Homo sapiens: one gene and its partners. The protein of the gene in region 3 interacts with the protein of the main gene of each other region in a pairwise test. Each region holds a gene or a part of one and is shown on either strand. Other genes may lie near its edges. The genes, in order: TEX11, SPATA2, EFHC1 and MIIP.

Evidence for each region.
Region 1: the proteins of EFHC1 (region 3) and TEX11 interact in binary tests that used the Homo sapiens proteins (3 or more experiments, as listed by UniProt).
Region 2: the proteins of EFHC1 (region 3) and SPATA2 interact in binary tests that used the Homo sapiens proteins (3 or more experiments, as listed by UniProt).
Region 4: the proteins of EFHC1 (region 3) and MIIP interact in binary tests that used the Homo sapiens proteins (3 or more experiments, as listed by UniProt).

The regions. Positions count from the first base shown.
Region 1 is NC_000023.11:70,528,405-70,534,724, reverse strand, and holds the end of TEX11 (testis-expressed protein 11), read left to right. Parts: intron 1-4,725; coding exon 4,726-4,890; intron 4,891-5,537; coding exon 5,538-5,630; 3' UTR 5,631-5,785; downstream 5,786-6,320. UniProt on the Homo sapiens protein: Regulator of crossing-over during meiosis. Involved in initiation and/or maintenance of chromosome synapsis and formation of crossovers.
Region 2 is NC_000020.11:49,905,525-49,912,572, forward strand, and holds part of SPATA2 (spermatogenesis-associated protein 2), read right to left. Parts: exon of another isoform or gene 4,928-7,048; intron 3,069-4,927; 5' UTR 2,967-3,068; coding exon 2,631-2,966; intron 1,322-2,630; coding exon 95-1,321; 3' UTR 1-94.
Region 3 is NC_000006.12:52,493,322-52,497,726, forward strand, and holds the end of EFHC1 (EF-hand domain-containing protein 1), read left to right. Parts: 3' UTR 1-3,877; downstream 3,878-4,405. UniProt on the Homo sapiens protein: Microtubule inner protein (MIP) part of the dynein-decorated doublet microtubules (DMTs) in cilia axoneme, which is required for motile cilia beating.
Region 4 is NC_000001.11:12,029,495-12,032,590, reverse strand, and holds the end of MIIP (migration and invasion-inhibitory protein), read right to left. Parts: intron 2,827-3,096; coding exon 2,697-2,826; intron 2,564-2,696; coding exon 2,467-2,563; intron 1,326-2,466; coding exon 1,188-1,325; intron 1,051-1,187; coding exon of another isoform or gene 1,030-1,050; exon of another isoform or gene 870-1,029; coding exon 783-869; 3' UTR 546-782; downstream 1-545.

The DNA of each region.
Region 1 (6,320 bases), on a different chromosome or scaffold from region 3:
GAGCCTAAAAGGACAGGCATTTGTGCTCCAGAATACCTACGATTCAGTTAGAGATCTACGTGGCTGCCATATGTATTAAGATGTTGAGGACAGAGAAAACTGGTTTAAAATATGTGGCCCCAAAAACCATCAGAGCAAACACCTCAGTTTGCTGACATTGATTTGTATTACACGTAGGCAAGTCCATGTGGCTTTCAGGTCAGTAGCTGTGTGGATGCATTTCTTTATTGAGGATTAATGATTTTCATAAGCAATGCTGGGCATGAGGGCAACTAATGCAAATTAAAATAAAACTCGAGTGTTCCCTAACTCATTGGATGACACCATCATTCTTCTGGTTGCCCAAGCCAGACATCTAGGAGTCATCCTCAGCACCTCCCTCACTCCCACTTCTAATCTATCACCAAGTACTATCAATCAATTTGACCTCCCAAATATCTCTCAAATTCATCTACTTCCTCCTATCTTTCACCATCAGTAACCTAGTTCAAGTTACACACCTTTTATCTTAGCTAGTTTAGTGATCTCAGGAACCTTTTAACTGGCCTCACATCTACTCTTGCTTTCTTCCTTCCTTTCTTTGCCCAGCAACCAAGGTGATCTTTTACTTTTTTTTTTTTTTTTTTTTTTTTTTGAGATGGAGTCTCGCTCTGTCACCAGGCTGGAGTGCAGTGGTGCAATCTCGGCTCACTGCAACCTCTGCCTCCCAGGTTCAAGCGATTCCCCTGCCTCAGCCTCCCCAGTAGCTGGGACTACAGGCACCCGCCACCACGCCCAGCTAATTTTTGTATTTTTAGTAGAGATGAGGTTTCACCATGTTGGCCAGGATGGTCTCGATCTCTTGACCTCGTGATCCGCCCACCTCGGCCTCCCAAAGTCCTGGGATTACAGGTGTGATCCACCATGCCCAGCCAATCTTTTACATTTTTGAGTATGCATGACCTTTTGAAATCCTCTTTAGTAGTTTCCCATTGCTCTTAAAATAAAGACCAAAATCTTGAATGTGGTATACAAGATCCTACTAACCTATCTGTCCTCATCTTGAGCCACTCTTTCCCTCACATTCTGCACTGTCAGCCACACTTTACAAGACCACAAATTACCACCGTCTAGGCAAATATGATGGTCTCTTTTCCCTGGCCTTCGTTATTGACCACTGCCTCCTTATTGAAATTCTGTTTTCCTTTGTCCTTTATTTTCTCGCCACTCCTCTGCGTTCTTTTCCCTCTTACCACCCAACTATGAACATTTCCAATATTCTCTACTCTTTGCTACTCTGTATTCTGTACTCTGTCCTTTAAGTGAATTAATACACTTTAACTATTACCTGAGTTCCAATCCATATCTGCAACAGCCTGCTTATCTCCAGAGTTACCTCAAGCCAACTTGTTTAAAATAGAACTTATTGTTGTCCCTTATCCCCAGAAACATGTCCTTCAATTTTTTCTTTCAGTGATGCCAGCATTCTTTCAGCCATTCAAACTACATACCTTAGAGCCATTTTCACTTGACCTGTCATTCCCCATATCAAATCAGTTACCAAATTCTATTGATTCTTCCTTTAAATGATTCTTACATCCGTCCATCTAAATTGTCACTATTTTAGTTCTGACCCTCATCACTTCATTCTTAGATCACACAACTCCTTTTATTTTATTTTATTTTATTTTTATTTATTTATTTTTTTGAGACAGAATCTCGCCCTGTCGCCCAGGCTGGAGTGCAGTGGTGCGATCTTGGCTCACTTCAAGCTCCGCCTCCCAGGTTCACGCCATTCTCCTGCCTCAGCCTTCCGAGTAGCTGGGACTACAGGTGCCTGCCACCACGCCCGGCTAATGTTTTGTATTTTTAGTAGAGACAGGATTTCACCATGTTAGCCAAGATGTTCTTGATCTCCTGACCTCGTGATCTGCCTGCCTCGGCCTCCCAAAGTGCTGGGATTACAGGCACAAGCCACCACGCCGGGCCTTTATTTTATTTTTTGAGACGGAGTTTGGAGTTTCACTCTTGTTGCCCAGGCTGGAGTGCAATGGCACAATCTTGGCTCACCACAACCTCCGCCTCCTGGGTTCAAGCGATTCTCCTGCCTCAGCCTCCCGAGTAGCTGGGATTACAGGCATGTGCCATCACACCCAGCTATTTTGTATTTTTAGTAGAGACGGGGTTTCTCCATGTTGGTCAGGCTGGTCTCGAACTCCCGACCTCAGGTGATCTGCCCGCCTTGGCCTCCCAAAGTGCTGGGATTACAGGTGTGAGCCACTGCGCCAGGCCATAACTCCCTTTAAACACGTCTCCCTGTCTGTGTTTTCCCACACGGAGGTCTGTTCTAAACACCACTGGCATTTCTATCTTATTAAAACTACACTTTCATCATATCACTCTCCTTCTCAAAAAGTTTCAGTGCCTTCCCGTTGCCAGCAGGATAAATTTCAAAATCTGAAGCCTGTAATGCAAAAACCCTTAACACTCCAGCCCACAAGATGTTAGCAAACGTTCCACATACCCTGGATTAGACAAAGTTCCATGGTTTCTTTACTGTAAAACTTCCCTAAACTTTCAGTGAACTAGTGTGCATTATAATGCTCCAAAAGGGTGATATATAGAATGCGGCATTTCCAAAATGTATTTGACTAAAGAACTCTATTTTCATAGACCATCTGTTAACATTTCTCATGACACTAGTGTTCTGAGGAAGAACATTGAGGAAAGGCTTAGGAAGCTCCATCCTACATTTCCAGTCTTATTTCCCGTTAACTCCTCTACATAAATCGTCTGCTTAGGCCAAAGAACTCTTGGTCTTCCTAAGACATGCTTGTTCTCAAGTACAATCCAAGTCTTCATTTATTCTGTTCTACCCACATGGAATGCCCTTCTCTTTCTCTGAATATCTATATTTTTCTTTTTAATTGAGATTTAGTTCATATATCATAAAACTCACATTAAGGTATACAGTTCAGTGAGTTATAGTATATTCAAAAGATTGTGCAACCATCACCATTATCTAATTCTAGAACATTTTCATCATCCCCAAAAGAAACTCTATACCCATTAGCAGTCCTTCCCCATACCTCCCTTCCCCAGCCCCTGGCAACCACAAATCTCCTTTCTGTCTCTATGGCTTTGCCTATTCTGCACATTTCATATAATCTCTGTATATGTAGATCCTACTCATCTACCCTAAGATCATGTTTGTTTGTTTGTTTAAGTCATTTTTTTCATTCACAACATTAAAATCACAACACTCATACCCTGTATCAGACACTGTGCCAAGCAAAGGCAAATGTCATTTTACCTTCAAGGGGCTCCCTGCCTAGTGGGGGAGACAGGCAGTACAGTGTTCAAAGTACTATTATGGTGCTGTGAACAAAGTAGCAGAGGGGCAAAGAGGTTTGAGCAAGAAATTGTGGAGAGCCAGGGAAATCCTCACTGAGGAGGTGGCATCTGACTGGATATTGATTCATTTGTTCATTCATTCATTCAGCAAACATCTGTTGTGCCTCTTATGTGCCAGGCACAGTGCTGGACTCTGAAGATACAAAAATGCACAGGAAAAATTCCCTGTACCTCAAGGAACTCAATAGTCTGGAGGAGATAAATACATAGCATTTCAAAACAATATAACATAAGTTATATTAGAGGAATGGAAAGCTCACTGTGGGAACAGACAACTAACTGTTCTTGTGAATTTGAAGAAAAAGTATAAGTCTATGAAGTGGACAAGGATGAGGAGTAGTGTTTCAAGCAGAGACTAGACCGCCTCTGACTGGAATATCCTAGTGCTCATTTCTTTAACTGAATGAGAGCACCTAATGTTTGTGTCTCTTAATCACATACCTTGTGAAGTCGTCTTTACATGTGGATGCCTTGTGTCCCCAAAAGCATTGCACAACCTTTAGGATAAAAGTTTTGTCTTTTCCCTCTTAGTGCCCTCATTATCACAGTGTTTTATGTATAGTAATTTCTTTTTGGATCCAAATGAATGAAAGGATGACAGCTGAGACAGCATTCTTGACACTCTCAAAAAGCTGCTGCCTAATGTGTCTCCTATCACATTTCTCCCTTCTGGGGCTTTAACATGAATGCTTTCTTTGTGTTCCATCTCCTATGCAAGAACCAAGAAAGTAGCTTCTTAGACTAATACTTTTCACTATTGCAAAGTATTGTGAAGAAGCAAATATAATCTTGTGATTAGTCATGTTAAAGACCACTGATAAGGCTAAGGGACCATCTTAGAAATGTGTGCTGTGTTCATAGCTAGGTAGATATCGTTAACTCTGAAGATGAATATAATTTCTACTCCAAATATGGACTAATTCTGGTGACAGAAATTAAGAAATTCAATAAAACTGCTTCTTGACAACCTTATCCGAAAAGTAGAGGTAGGTATTAGGGAGGTAATTGACTGAAGACAGAATCAAGGGAAGCCCCAAACAGTATGCAAGTTTTTCTCGTGCCTCAGGAAGATTAGGAATCTTTCTAATTCTTTCCTTCAGTCAGAGAGGACCTCGGTTTACGTCTCTTCATGAGATCTTGCTATGGAACATTCTACAGCTGACAAACCTTCAAAGTGCTCTCCTCCTGCACTCTCCAGGAGCACAGACCTTCCTAAACATCAGCAGAGCTCCTATTGTTTGTTTAGTAATAAAGGGACATAGCATGGATACAGGTAGTGCCACAATGAACTGTGACAGTAATAACTGCAAAATTTCTGTTCTTGGATTATAGAAAGACTACCCAGAAATGGAGATTCTCTGGCTGATGGTCAAGTCCTGGAATACCGGAGTACTTATGTTTAGCAGGAGCAAGTATGCATCTGCTGAAAAGTGGTGTGGCCTGGCCTTGCGTTTCCTTAACCACCTTACCTCCTTCAAGGAAAGCTATGAAACTCAGGTAAGGAGGGAGAGGGCTAGGGCAGATGACATGACCTAGGGGGCAAGAGGTTATGGCTGGGCTCTCCACAAGGACTCAACCCCATCCTCCTTGGCTAGGAAAGGATCTTGCTCATTGTTCCTCTCAATGGTTCCACATAACTTCAAGAATCAGGAGACCATAAACAGTAATTCCTTAGAGCAAAAACCAAGAAGGACAGAGAACAGGGGGAAATTTAAGGATAGCAAATGGAATCTAATTAAGAGGAATGCCAAGAGTGAGCTCTGGAAAGATGCATCACTGTCAGTGCCAGTGCATGTGGGAAAGGACTGGCCTCTGCTCAAAGCAATAACTGTTGAAAAAGGCATTTTCTCCAGGAACTATTCTCAGTTGCAGAGTTCTGGGCCATTGGCTAACCAGGAGAGGTTTGGTAGAGAAAAAGCCTTGTTACCAAATAAGAGCAAAGGATATTTTATAGTTAAGTATCTTCTCCCTTATAATAGGGGATTCCTTTTCCTCAAGAGAGGACTGTATTTTCTCCCCAAATCTGAGATGCTTCAGATCTCCGAAGGTAACGGTTAGACTTTCATGCCATCACCGTGGGTCTGGGAAGCTTTCCCACATTTCTTTTTCCCCTCAAGAAATCTATTTGTTGTTCTCTTTCCCAGATGAATATGCTGTATAGTCAGCTTGTGGAAGCATTGAGTAACAACAAGGGCCCAGTTTTTCATGAACATGGCTACTGGAGCAAGTCAGATTAGGCAAGCTCATGGCCACATGAAGAAGATACATTGTCCCGAGATGCTGACTGTTTAAATTTTTGCCAGAGTTTCTCTTGAGCTTTTGTTTCTGTTTGCTCAGACCCTGTTTTCATGTTGTTGAATAAACTTTCTAAAATAAAAGCATGCTGAATTTACCTTGGTGACCAGCTCATTTCTGGGGGACAAATGAATTTTCCAAAGTGCTAAGGATGATATTGAAATAGACCATGTGAGAGCAAGATGGTTTATGCCCCATCTGAACAAAAGAGAATGTTCATCCCAGTTCAACACAGATTGCATTTTATTCCCAAAGTGCTCAAATTCCTAATCCCTGAAGATATCAAAGAATCCCAGACTCTTATTTGGAAGGACCTTAGTGGTCACCAGGGCCAGCATTTATCTGATTCATGAAATCTCTCTCTAACATCCTTGAGAATCTGTTGCCCAGTTTCTAACAGAACTTATTCCAGGCCAGGCGTAGTGGCTTGTGCCTGTAATCCCAGCACTTTGGGAGGCTGAGGTGGGCAGATCACTTGAGGCCAGGAGTTCAAGACCAGCCTGGCCAACATGGCAAAACTCCATCTCTACTAAAAATACAAAAAAAAAAAAAATAGCCAGGCATGGTGGCGCGTGCCTGTAGTCCCAGCTACTCGGGAGGCTGAGGCAGGAGAATCGTTTGAACCCAGGAGA
Region 2 (7,048 bases), on a different chromosome or scaffold from region 3:
TCCGCCTCTGAGATCAATGCGTTAGTACTTCTTCACCGTGAAACCCGAAAGGTCGGTTGATGTAGCCCTTGGAGCTGGAAGGGGCGAGGCCGGTCTATCTGTACACGAGATGGGAGAGCTGGGTGGACTTGTAGTTCAGCTGGTTGTTGGGCATGAACTTGTGCAGCTCACTCTTTTTGTAGCAGGGGTCATAATGGTAAGCGCTGAGGCAGGCGTCACATGAGACTTTTGAACACTGGGTGCAGGTGTTGGTGGCGCCTGGGCGGTTGCAGAAGCCACAGCGGGAAGTGGGCGTGGTGGAGGGCTTGGATTTGGAGTGAAGGTGCGGGAGGCGGTCGAGGCCCTGAGTCTGGCCTGGGTACTTCTCCCGCAGAGATGCCCCGTGGGCCAGGCTGTCATGAGTCGAGGCCTTGCTGGGGAAGGCGCTGGGCTTGGAAGCTGGAGGACAGGTGAGCAGGCTGTCACAGCGCTGGCAGAGGGAGGAGCTGCAGGACAGCCCGCAGCTTTGGCACTTGGAGAGGGCGGACTCTTTGGCAGGGGGCGAGCGCTTGTGGTAGAGGGAGTGGGCATCGTTTCTGAGCAGCCACACATCCGGCCGCAGAGCATCCTGCCGACGGTAGGTGGCCCTGGGTTCAGAGTCTGTGTACAGATCCACGTCATCCTGAGTGGAGAAGTAGGTACCGCGCAGCAGGGCCGGGCCGTTGCTGGGGGAGGCGGGTGGAAGCACATCCGGGCTGCCGTGGGGGGAGCTGGCCATGGTCAGCAGCGAAGGGGATGGGCGGATGATCTCATCCTTGAGGTCGTCCCCCACATCCGTTGCCACAGGCTCCTTCCGAAGACTCAATGAGGCCTTCAGGGGTGGCTTCCGGCTCTCCCAGTAGCTGTCATAGGCATCCACTGACCTCGAGGGCTTGGTCACGCGGGGCTTGTAGTAGTCCTTGGCCGCCCGCTCGCTGGCCGACTTCTGGAGTGCCACTCGTGACATGGAGGCCGTCAGGTGCTCCCGGCCCTCTGCCCGCCGCCGCAGGGCGTCCGAGCAGCCGCGCACATCCTCTGCACTGCTCTTGCGCTCGCTCACAATGTCCAGCTCGGAGTAGCCCTTGTCCTTCACTTGTGAGTGGATTTCTAGCATCTGCTCACACTCGACTTTGGCCAGAAAGAGCTCAAAGGAGACCATCTTCACCTGGAGGGTCTCCACGAGCTCTCTGAGCTTGTATGCAGTGCCCAGCTCAGGTGTGTAGCCCATGCAGCTCAGGATGGCTCGGATGTCCTCTTCCAGTAATGTCGACTTGACATAATAAACAAAAGGGCCCGTGTAGGTCTAGAAGGGAGGGAGTAGAAAAGAAAGGTGGGGTTTTCTGTCAGAGACACAAGACAGAGACTATGTCAAAGCAAAGGATGTCCAGCTCTGAAGTGGGGCGGCGGGGAGAGGGCAGGGCAGGGAAGGATCTCGACAGCCTCACCCTGCGGGAGGCAGAAGACGCAGGAGCTGGGGCTTGCTAAGCACTCAGGAATTGTGCAAGGAAATGACCCAGCAGCTCCTTTCTTTTGTTTGAGACGGAGTCTCGCTCTTTTGCCCAGGGTGGAGTGCGGTGGTGCGATCTTGGCTCACTGCAACCTCCGCCTCCTGGGTTCAAGCGATTCTCCTGCCTCAGCCTCCTGAATAGCTGGGATTACAGGCGCCCGCCAACACGCCCAGCTAATTTTTCTGTTTTTAGTAGAGATGGGGTTTCACCGTGCTGGTCAAGCTGGTCTCAAACTCCTGACCTCGTGATCCACCCGCCTCGGCCTCCCAATGTGCTGGGATTACAGGTGTGAGCCACCGCGCCTGGCAGCAGCTACTTTGTTAAACACAGGAAGCAAAACCTCTCGCTTCCTAGTGGGGCACGAAGACTCTACTCCATATGAAGAGAGAGCCTGGGCAAACATGGCTGAATAAAGGGGCCAGATTACAGGCAGAACGCGGTGACAATCAGAACGTTCCTCTCTGGTATTTCCATGAGGGGCTGAGTAACACGGCAGACTGAAGGGCCTGGCTAGGTGACAGCTCTCCTGTGCCATCCCCTCTCTTGATTACCACTCCTCCCATGGCAGAATGAAGAAGCCTGGCTAGGTGACAGCTCTCCTGTGCCATCCCCCGCGTGGTCTGATTCAGGATCCCTCTCTCAATTCCCCCTCCTCCTCTACTGTTCCCACTTAGTACAGAACACCCCTCAGCTTGCTGGGACCGCTGAGAAGCTTCCTAACTGCTCTCCCCATCCCTCCCACCTCCCCCCACCCCTCTACAGCCTACTTCCCATACCACAGCCAGAATGACCCTCTTCAGATGCAAGCCAGATCCCACACTGCCTCCTTCCCCGCCTACTCAGAACAAATCCAAGCCTTGCCCTGGGCCACAAGACCCTGCATAACCTGGCTGCCCCTGCCTTCCCAGCTTCTCTGCTTAAGGTGTGGCAGCCGGGCCAGAAACGGTTCAGAGGTGATGCTGGAGAGACGGGGAAGGTTCGGAGCCCGGAAGGATCTGAGAGCACAGGATGGATGGGATCAGACTGGCATAGCCTCTCAGGAGGGACTGCCAGGGGCAGGAAGAGAGAAGGAGGGCCTGTATGGAGGCTGCTCCAGGACCTCACCTTGATGCTTCTGAATTCCTTCTTCCACGGGTAGAGGAAGAGGTTGATGCCCACCGTCTCCAGCATGCTGAAGGCGCCGTGCAGAGCCCGCAGGCTAGAGGAGCTGAGCGAGCGCAAGGAGCTCTCCACCACCTCATAGAACTGGATCAGCCGGAATCGATAAAAGGGATCCACCTTGTGCAGGCTGAGCAGGGTTGAGGCTGCCACCCGCAGGCACTCATCGCTGCCAGGCCGCTGCCTGCTGGTGGTGGTATCCACTTTGCTCTCATGGAACTGCACGTACTTCCGAAATAAGTCATCCTTGAATTTAGTATCCATTGAACTGGGCTTCCCCATCCGATCGAGGGGGGCTACCTTATCTCCTCCATGGCTTCTGGATTAGAGGCAGGGACATCACTAAAAGCATGGACATGTTGCCGCCTGGACCAGCGGAGTGCTCTGGAAGGAGGGGAACAAGAAGCATGTCATTCCTCGATACGGTCGCGCTTCGGCTTCAGGTCGCTGAGGCAAAATGAACAGCAGAACTGGCCTGGGCTACACTGGACCCCAGCAGCACACTACAGAGCATGTACTACAAGCAGGGTTACAACAGAGGCCAGAGAGAGATGGACCTTGACTTTGTTGTGCTCACAAATGAAAAATACGATTAATATTCCTGAAAGAGAAATTCGGGTGAGTACAGCAGGAGCTCCTGTCCTGGTTTCGTTGGGGAAGGGCGAGTTTAGGAAAGCCCTCTTGAGACAGCAACAGACCTGAAGGATGAGGAGTCTGCCAGGCCAAGAGGCCGGGGAAGGAGTCGCAGTAGAGGAAGGCCCTGAGCTAATAGTACCAGAGGCTCCAGACACGTGACGAGCTTCACACACACTAACTCGCTTACTTTTTTTTTGAGATGGATCCTTGCTCTGTAGCCCAGGCTGGAGTGCAGTGGCGTGATCTCAGCTCACTGCAACCTCCGCCTCCCGGGTTCAAGCGATTCTCCTGCCTCAGCCTCCCAAGTAGCTGGGATTACAGGCACCTGCCACCACGCCTGGTTAATTTTTGTATTTTTAGTCAAGATGGGGTTTCACCATGTTGGCCAGGCTGGTCTCGAACTCCTGACCTCAAGTGATCCACCAGCCTTGGCCTCCCAAAGTGCCAGGATTACAGGTGTGAGCCCCCATACCCAGCCTCACTTTTTCTTCTTAAACAATCCTAGGAGAGAGACGCTACAGGCAGCCCCAGTGGACCATGTGCAAACTGAGACACAGACATTAGAAACTGCTCAAGGTAGGCCAGGCACAGTGGCTCACACCTGTAATTCCTGAACTTTGGGAGGCTGACGGGGGAGGATGGCTTGAGTCCAGGAGCTCGAGACCAGCCTGGGAAACACGGTGAAACCACGTCTCTACAAAAATACAAAAAAATTTTTAAGAAAAAGAAACTGTCCAAGGTTATAGAACTCTCAGGAGGCAGAGAAGCTGAGCTCAGAACCCAGGCAATCTGGCTCCAAAGTCCATGCCCTTACCCACCACACCCTGCTTTCCTGAGGCAGGAAGCCTGGAACAGTAACAGAACTGCAGCCAGTGAGGCCGAGGCCACGAGGGCAGGGGCATGAGGAGAGGCAGATGCCAGCATCAGCGGGACCCTCAGCCCCAAGGCCGCAAGAGCACATTCAGAATTCGATATTTTATACAAAGAGCCACGTGAAGCCACTGAAGAGTTTACAGCGAGGGGAGAGAGATACGGTCTTATTTACAATTTTCAAAAGAGGCCACCGTGGCTACCGGCCCCTGGAGTGCTGTTACCGGCCTTTGACAGCCTGCGGCCCCTTTATCACCAGAGCGCTTGACAGCCCCCTGTTGGGAGAGGATAGAATGTTCTGAGCTGGGACACAGGCTTTACACAATCTTGTCATCTGCTTAGCCACTTGTTAGTAGAACAGGCACAGATCCAGCAATATTCTTGTCACCACAACGCTGGGAGCGAATCCGGATTAATGGAGGGACACTGCCAGGGCCAGGGGAGACAACACGCGCAGGGTCACGGACACGGGGTCCAAGGCCAGGCACCTGCGAGTGAGGCCAGGGCTGCTTCTCCAGGTTACTTGGGCAAATTGCTCCACCTCCCTGGGTGTCGGTTTTCTCCTATAAAACGGGGTTAATAATAGCGCCTCTGTCCAGAGCTGGCGAGAGGATTATGCATGATGGAATATGAAGCTGCTCAGAGAGCCGGCTCCGGGAAGTCCTTGATGGCCATTGCTGTTGTCTGAAGGTGCTGTACCCCTAAGTGGACAGGCCTTCTCTGAGTGGGGCAAATACCTCTGACTGGGTGGTAGATGTGCATTTTCACATGCTCTGGTCCTGCTGCTCCTGCCCAGAAGCTCCGTGGGTGCAGGCCTGTGACCATCTTGCTCAGTAAGGTGACCTGTGTGCTTCATGTCTGCTGAGTGTGGGAGACAGCAAGGGGCTGAGAGAAGCTGCAGCAGGACTGGGCCTGGCATGTGGGGGACTCCTTTAGCAGACCTGTGTTCAGCTAGGAAGGTCCTACGAGCCCAGCAACTATCAGGAGGTCAACAAAATCATCCTCATCTCAAAGAGCCAGTAGTCTGGCTCCTCCACAGATTTTGTCCCCAGGAGGAGACTCCTGGGAGTACTAATGGTGCGGTGAGAGGTGGGATGTGTAGCAAAACTAGGGACACAGAGAGGCCACTGTCTCCAACACACTGCACTGCTGAGGGAGCCCAGTGCTACAGTGACAAATAAGGCTGAGGAGTACAGGAGGCAAACACATCCATTTAGGGGCCAGGTGCGGGGGCTCACGCCTGTAATCCCTAAACTTTGGAAGGCCAAGGCAGGAGGATTGCTCAAGGCCAGGAGTTCGAGACCAGCCTGGGCAACATAGCAATACCCTGTCTTTACAAAAGAAAACAAAATCCACTTGGGATAAAATTCTGCTTCAGGAAGATTCTCATCATTCAGGCCTCAGCTCAAACATCAGCCTCTAGAGGTACCACCCTATCTCACCTTCCCAGTTCCACACTGTCACATTCTCCTACGATAACCACAATCTGAAACTATCAACTTCATTCATTCATTAGCTTCCTCTCTTTGTCCACCCCTCACCCTCCCTGGTAAGCTGGTAAGCTCGTGGTAAGCTCCATAAAGGCAAGGACCATGTCTGTGTTGTTCACCACGATGCCTAACACAGAGCCTGCCTGTGCTTGATAAAGTAGGTGAAATGGATGCTGCAGCCAGGCACGGTGGCTCACGCCTGTAATCTTAGCACTTTGGGAGGCCGAGGCAGGTGGATTGCCTGAGCTCAGGAGTTCGAGACCAGCCTGGGCAACACGGTGAAACCCCGTCTCTACCAAAATTTAAAAAAAAATTAGACGGGTGTGGCAGCATGCGCCTGTAATCACAGCTACTCGGGAGGCTGAGGCAGGAGAATTGCTAGAACCCAGGAGGCGGAGGCTGCAGTGAGCCGAGATCGCCCCATTGCACTCCAGCCTGGGCAACAGAGCGAGACTCCGTCTCTAAAAAAAAAAAAAGAAAAAGAAAAAGAAAAGAGAAAAAGAGAAATGGATGCTGCAAAGGATGTCTGCATTCACGATGCCATCACTTTAGTTTCTCATTGGTACCTCCCAAGAATCCTGGGAGATCAGCTGGAGAGCAAAGAAACGGGCTCAGAAAGATGGCATGAGGTACGACAAGTAGCTCAAGGTTAGCAGATGATGGACCCGATAATCCAAGCCTGGCCTTCTGACTTGGAACCTGTATTCCTCTCACCACCCCACGATTCCCATGTCCAGCAAGCATTTCTGCAGCCCCCACCCTCTGCCTGAGCTGGACCCAGTCGGGGAATGGGGATGGGTGGGACAGGTAGAGGACAGCAATAAAGGAGACACATCCTGCCTGCAGCTCTAGCTGGAAGAGCATACCACCTAGTATCAAAGTAGGTATGTGCTCTAACTTCATACTGTTCTGTCCATAAAAAAATAAACAATTTAAAATGTATATTCTCTTAAAAAATAAAAATGCAGGCCAGGCGCGGTGGCTCACGCCTGTAATCCTACAACTCTGGGAGGCCAAGGTGGGTGGATCGCCTGAGATTGGGAGTTTGAGACTAGCCTGGCCAACATAGCGAAACCCCGCCTCTACTAAAAATACAAAAATTAGCTGGACGAACACCTGTAATCCCAGCTACTCAGGAGGCTGAGGCAGGAGAATGGCGTGAACCCAGGAGGGAGAGGTTGCAGTGAGCTGAGATCGTGCCATTGCACTCCAGCCTGGGCAACAGAGCAAAAACTCCATCTCTACATAAATAAATGTATTGCACCACTGGAGAGGATAGTCACACATGCATTTACCATTCTTGACTTATCTAAGAGAAGCTGCCATCACGCCTCTGGCCCCAGGGTCTGTTTTTTGGTAGTCTGAGAA
Region 3 (4,405 bases):
TTGTGTGAGCAATTTCTTATAACTCTCTCTTTCTCTCTCTCTACATATATATATATATATATATTTTATATGTACACATTCATACACACACACGCTTATATGTATACATATAGTATGTATATGTGTATATATATTATGTATATACATATATGTGCACACATCTCTACTAAAAATAGAAAAATTAGCCAGGTGTGGTGGCGTGTGCCTGTAGTCCCAGCCACTCGGGAGGCTTAAATGGGAGAATCACTTGAACCCTGGAGGCAGAGGTTGCAGTGAGCCAAGACCACGCCACTGCACTCCATCCAGCCTGGGTGACAGAGCAAGACTCCATCTCAAAAAAAAAAAGGTTAGAAAAATGCTGCTTTTAGAGAGCCTGGCCTTGAGAGAGGAAGGAAAGACTAGTTGCAGTTACTATTCTCTGGTGAGCTCTGACTGGCTTTTTACAAACAGGGCTTCTCTTTGGTTGAAGTCAGCCACTAAGTTCATCTTTAAACATGCTATCTCAAATTCCCCGAAGCCACCCAAAATGTGGTATGAATGAGGATAGAGTTACACAGAATTCAGACTGCTTTGCCCTCTCAGAACTTCTAGGGAACTTCCCTTGGTGTTTCCTTCCCTAACGAGCTCAGCCACTTGTAACCAGCTTATTGAAAGGGCTGTGAATGTATTATGTTGATTCCTTTTCTGTTCCAGGTTATTATCTTGGGAATAACCCATGTTTTGTTTTGTTTTACCCTCAGTCGCTCATAACTATTTAAAACAGTATCTCTTTCAAGTACAGATGCTCCTCTACTTATGGGGCTATGTCTCAATAAACTCACGTAAGTAAAAAATATCACAAGTTGAAAACACATTTAATAACCCTGATAAGCCCATTGTAAAGTAGGCAAATAAGTTGGACCATTGAAAGTTGGGGACTATCTGTATTTTAGAAGTTTTTTCAGCTTAAAAATTACCAAGCTCTATCCTACTTGGCCCAGCTCAGTCCTTCCCCCAGGCTTAGAAGCCTGTGGTAAAGAGTGTGTGTATACTGGGGTGATGATAGTGGTTTCTTCTTACTCCCTTCTTTCTGTCTTCTGCTCCCTTTGTTCCTATTCAGCCATGCTGCTGTTTCTAGCCCATGTAGGCTCTGGGAAAGGTTAAGCGGGTAGAAACCAGAGAAAAAGGGCAAAGTCTTATTTCTGTGGCTAGTAATGTCGTAATGTGGGGCCAGGTCTGAGTGACATGTGCCGAAAGGCTGACTCTTTCTCCCAGAGCACCTTTTCTCTCTTTTTGGATTCAGGGGGTACATGTGCAGGTTTGTTACATGAGTATATTGCACCCAGGTAGTGAGCATAGTGCCCAGTAAGTAGTTTTTCCACACATACCCCCTCCTTCCCTTCCCACTCTGGTAGTCCCCAGTGTCTATTGTTCCCATCATTATGTCTATGTGTATTCAATGTTTAGCTCCCACTTAGAAGTAAGAACATGCAATATTTGGTTTCCTATTCCTGCATCAATTCACTTTAGGATAATGGCCTCCAGCTGCATCCATGTTGCTGCAGAATACATGATTTCATTTTTTATGGCTGCGTAGTATTCCATGGTGTAGATATACTTCATTTAAAAAATCTAATCCACCATTGATTGGCACCTAGGTTGATTCCATGTCCTTTGCTCAGAGCCCCGTTTTGGTGAGTTCTTAGAACTCTTTCCAACCGGAAACTGCCCAGTGCACCACTCTCAGATGGACGGGACCCAGTCTGTACCTGATCACCCCGGCTCTAATGGTATGGTCTCCAAGGCTCCTTCTGATCTTCCCAGGAGGCCCTTTCAGGCTGACACACCTTCCAGGGTGTGCACTCTCGCCATGTTCTCACCCAGATGGCTCTCTTGGCTGTGTAATTAGGCAGCTCAATCCCTTTCCTTTAGACTGTTTCAGGGGAGAACCAGGTACCCCAAATCTTATGCTCTCCAAACTCCAGGGGACAGACACATGTCAAACCCTGAGTCTTTTAAAGTATACCCTCACTTAGCTTGCAGACCCAAGGCACTCCAGCCCCTTTCAAGAAGCTTGCACTTTCTGATATTTTCTCCATCACTCTTGCCTCCTGTGGTAGAGGAGCTTTGGGCTACTCCTTAACAAATCATTCATGGATCGGCAGCAAATCTGCAACATATGGATATATTTGCCAATTTTTGTCCTCAGCTTTGGGTCTCAGCCAAAATGGAGATTTAGGAAAGTCTCATTTAGCATCCTCTAGCCTGCTTTTGGCTGTTTTGTTTTGTTTTTGTGTTTGTTTTTTAGAGACAGGGTCTTACTCTGTTGCCAGACTGGAATGCGGTGGTGTGACCATAGCTCACTGCAGCCTCAAACTCCTGGGCTCATGCAATCCTCCTGCCTCAGCCTTCTGAGTAGCTAGGCCTGTAGTCTCAGAGGGAACTGTCTTCAATAAAGTTGGCACTGTCCACATACACTCCTTAAGTTTGCTGTCCACTTCTTGCCTTGCATCTCCTTTTAAGTTTACTTAAGACTGAGAAGCTGAGATCTGACAGCACCAACACAAGGTATAAAAGAGATTTCATGAAAGACCAAAGCCAGCAGGCCATTTCTGTGGTGTCCAAACACTCGCTGCTCACCTGTTTATACAAAGCAGCAAGTATAGGAGCCACAAACGTCAGAGCAAATCACTTTTTCTACTAAAATCCTGAATGGCAGTGCAGCCATTAGATGTCACTAATTACCTTATGCTACAGTCATAGCTGGCATGCATCTGGAGTGTCAGGTTCAGGTGGTGGAAGGGAGCTGAGCATTACCCTGTAGCAAGCAATATTGTAGGAAGCAGAAATGATCATCACTTCAAACTGGCCACCAGGGAGTTGAAAGATTCTAATACACACACACACCCACACACACACACACACAAAGAGAGAATGAGAATTATTAAGATTAGCACTGGTAGCTGAAGCTATCAGGTCTAACTGAAGCATTTGACTAAGACTGCTTATAGTGCTTACGGCTTTGGGACTAATAAAAATCTGCCTTGCGGGTAAAGATGGGCTGTGAGTTAGCCACTACTCAGAAACCTGGGCCTGTACCTTGTCTGCACCATCAGGGGGCCTTGAAAATACCATCCAATTAAGGTGTATCAAATCCATATCTATAGGCTTTGAGGGTATTTGGGACACATAGGTAGAGAAGACGTCTCTAAATGTTGTCCAGAGAATCCACTTGGTTAAGTGACTCCTGAGTATCCTGCTGGCACATAAGTTCATTTTAAAAAGCCAATATGAGTGCTTTATATGTACCATGAACTTAGCATTCAGTATCTCTAAATCTCTCACCATGACTCCCCACAAAACATGAAACCCTTTTGACACAGATGCACAAAAAGACTCGGAAGGGTTAACTGCTTGAGTTCACCTAGCTTCTCATGGCAGAGCAGGACCCAACTCTACAATGAAGCTTGCCATGCATCAGAACCACTCACCTTCACCTCAAGCAAACATTTCCTCTTTCTCACACCCCATGGGTGTCCTTGACTAACTGCCACCTGTAACTGCACTCATCTTTTGAGATCTTTTTCCAAAGAAAGATGGTTCTGGTAAACACAGCAAGCAGCTACAGCCAACAGCAGCCATGTAAGTGACACCAGCAATCCCCACTATTACTAATACTTGGATGTCTTCTAGTCAGCACCAACATATTTGTTGGCCTTTACACAAACGAAACCCCATTTCCTCCAAGCTAAATAACATCATAGTATAGTAGGCATCAAGGATGATGTGCTTGTTTCTGGAGCTTCCTACCCACAAACCCCATGTTAAGAAAACCTCTTTTCCACTTTACTATTAAAGAGTCAAATAAAAATGATGCTTATTGCTATCCAGCACTTGACATAACTGACTCTCCATCCTTAATTCCCTAATTCATATCACAATGGACAAATACGGGTCAAAATATATAAGAAATGACTAATATAGTGAAAAATAATAGACATGAGGGCTAAAATTCATTGCAAACTCCTTTAAGCAAACGTAAACATCCACGTTAAAAGCATCACTGTATAAAAGCACGTCAAGGAAATAATTATGAGACAATTCTGATAATTTTCTGCCTTTTATTGTTATTTCAGAAAATATTTGATCATTTGTTCCAAAATGTACATTTAAAAAATCCATACAAAACTGTAATTTGTTTTAAAACCAGACAGAAACAGTGGAAAAATGATTTTGAAAAAAAGTTCACCAAAAGCAAAAAGACACCCCTCCCCCCAACCCTTTTTTACATGAAAGCATAAATACGGCAGGTACAAATTTTCCTTGAGTTCCTTGTTGAAATTTGGTCCATATGAACAGGCTAGAGTAGAAAACAGACACTTTGTCCACATTTGCATTATCAGTTGCTCAGGGCACCAGCAGCCTT
Region 4 (3,096 bases), on a different chromosome or scaffold from region 3:
TTCATATTATGCAACCAACACATACAAGAGGTGAGTGAAGGACAGGGCACTGCCTACTCTCCCAGACTGGACATCTGGGCTCTCTGCTAACCTTGCCTCCAACTCACCGCCCAGCCCTGTTTCCTCATCTGTCCCTGCTGGGGCTCTGAATGACCTGCGGCTCCCATGGCTGGGTGGAGGAGCCATGTGACCCCAGGGACTTCCAGAGAGCCCTTCTATCAATGGATCCCGGTTCTGGGACCAGGAAGGAGAGAGCTCAGTCACTCAACACGACTCACGGCTTCAGCGGAGGCCCTCGCTAAAATGACTTTTTAATAACCTTGGCCCAGCCTGCCCAGGGGCCCCCCCTCCCCCATCTGGTGGAGGCCACTACCCAGAGCTGGGGATCTGCGGAAGGAGCCACCCTCATGGTGACGGACACACACTGCCTAGTCCCAGTGGTTGCAGTATCTTCCTTCCACAGGTGCCAGGAGGGCAGGCTGAGAGGCCAGAGTGCCTTCTGGGCCTCAAGTGCATTAGCAGGATGGAACCAGCACACGTGGGACTTGAGCTGCAGAGCACTGAGCTTTATTTACAAACTTCCACAGAATCCCTCACCCTCCACCCCAGGGTCCTCCCTCTCTGGAACTCAGGCAGCAGACAAGCTTGGGTCCACCCACCTGCCCAACCTAGGACAGCTGGGCCTGAGCTGGGCGGGCAGGGGATTCCATCTCCTGGGTGCGCCTGCCAGAGGGGAGAGGCTGGAGGCGGCGGGAATGCTGTTCTCCCCCAGGAGTCAGTCCTCAGGGCTTCTGCCGTGGGACGTGGGGCCGAGGGACCTGGGGCACTGACCAGGTCGGGGTCGGGGGCAGCATCTGCATTGGTGAGGCCTGGATGGGGAATAGGGAAGTCTCAGGGGGGCCACTTGAAAGGGACAGGTCATCCCCAGTTCCAGCCACATTCCCTCCTGGATCTTGCAGTCAGGGTGGCCTTCCTGGGTGGAGCAGGGCAGGCGGCAGGGAGCAGAGGAGTTCCGAGGGATGGCTAGGGTCAGGGCTGGAGGGCTGGACCCTGCAGAGAGACACTCCCAGGCTCCATCCTCCCCACCTCAATCCTACCCCCCAGGAGGCTCTGCAGTCCCCAGGCCTGCTGCGAGGTCTCTGTCCCTCTAGGGGGCACCCCAGGCTAGGATGCGATCTGGACCGTACCGGGTGAAAAGGGCTGCTGGTGCCGGACAGCTTCTGGTGCTGGGCCTCAGCGGAGACAGAGGACCAGAGGTCCAGGTTCCTGGGGGCTGAGCTTTTCTCAGACTTCGGAGGAAAAATGTCCCAGCCCAGCAGGCAGTGCTGTGGAAGGCAAGGAGTTAAAAGTGCCTGACCTGGGACAAGCTCCCCGCTGACTGGGCACACCCCCATCAGGGAGGAACTGTGCCCCCCATTAGGAAGGAGGCCCCCACCAAGGCAGGGCCTGTGTCTACCCACAAGACTACCCCAGCTCTCCCCTTTCTTATCCTGGCAGATCCAGCCATCCCTGGGGCCCTGAGAGCTGAAATGGGAGGAGGATAGGACGGTGACAGTGACATTCACAGGGTACTTCCTGCTGTAGGCTCTCCAAGCACCTGCATGGATTGCTTCACTCAACAGCCCCACCTCACCACCAACATCCCTGAGGATGGCGCTGTTATGTCCATTTTACGGACCAGCAAACTGACTTTCCTCTGCATCCTTCTCCTCCTCTGACCCCAGCTGCCCTACTCTCAATTTAGGAGTCAGGGGGAGTTGCCACTGGCACCCCATCCCGACCTGGAGACACAGGAAAGGACATTTTTTTTTTTTTTGAGATGGAGTCTCACTCTGTCACCCAGGCTGCAGTGCAGTGGCGAGATCTCAGCTCACTGCAGCCTCTGCCTCCCAGGTTCAAGCGATCCTCCCACCTCAGCCTCCCAAGTAGCTGGGACTACAGTGGAGGCTGCAGTGAGCTGAGACCATGCCAATGCACTCCAGCCTGGGCAGTAAGAACAAAACTCGGTCTCAAAAAAAAAAAAAAAAAAAAAAAGCAGCAGCAGCAGCACAGAGACCTAGGTTCGAATCCCAGCTCCTCCACCAAGGCGCCTCCCCCTCTGCTTCGGTCTCCCCACCTGCAGGGTGGGGGTACAGCAGTGCCTACACTCCTGGCTGCTGTGGGGGCTCCATGAGATAAGCCCCCTAAGGACTGTGCCTGCAGTACACAAAAGCGCAATAAACAGGACCCATTCATGTCATGCCAGCCTGCAGGCAGATCACCCTGGAAGCACCGGGGTACGTGGAGCGGGGGTCCTACCTCCCTTAGGTACAGGTGTGGGTGATGGAAGAGGCCCAGGCTGTGCTCCAGAGACTTGGGCGCTCACCCTTGTCGAGCCCAGTCTCGCTCTGTGACCCTCCCTGGGGATCTGGGCCAGTCTGAGCCAGCCCCGCCCTCATCACCATCCAGCCCCACGTGGCTGCTCACCCGGGGCAGGGCCAGTGTGTCAGAGGCGTCAAAGCTCTTTCGCCGGTGGATGTGGTACCGGTGCGGGGGCTCCAGGATCGACAGCGGGATGCTCACCCTGCGCAGGGGGGCAGTGGGGGACCCCTGAGGAGCCTCCCAGCGGTTGGGGGCCCACGCCCAGGCCCATCTTTTCTTAAAACCAGTGGTTCAGGCTCTGTCCCCCAAGGTGTCCCAATACTCTGGTCACTCACCTGACGTGCGCTGGCTGCGCCAGGGTCCCAGGGCCCTGCTGGTCTCGCGGTGTCCTGCACAGGCGGCAGGGGGTACCGGGATCCACAGGCACCGGGAACAGGCGCCGGTTGACACGGTAACAGTACACGCCTGCGAGGCCCATGAGAAGCCACAGCTCTCCCTGAGCCAGGAACCCAGGTCCCCAGGCTCCGTGCTGCCCTCAGCGGCCCCCAACCACACAAGCTGCCAATCCCTCTGGGAAGCCCTTCGGCCCATTTCCTCCTAACCCCTTTCCTCCCAGAACCTGGGGCCCACGCCCTAAGGGGTGGGGAGGGACATCCTCCTGGGGCCCTCAGGAGCTGGGATGGAGTCCCACCAGCACAGGGGCACTGCTGGGGAGGGTGGGATGGTGCCACACAG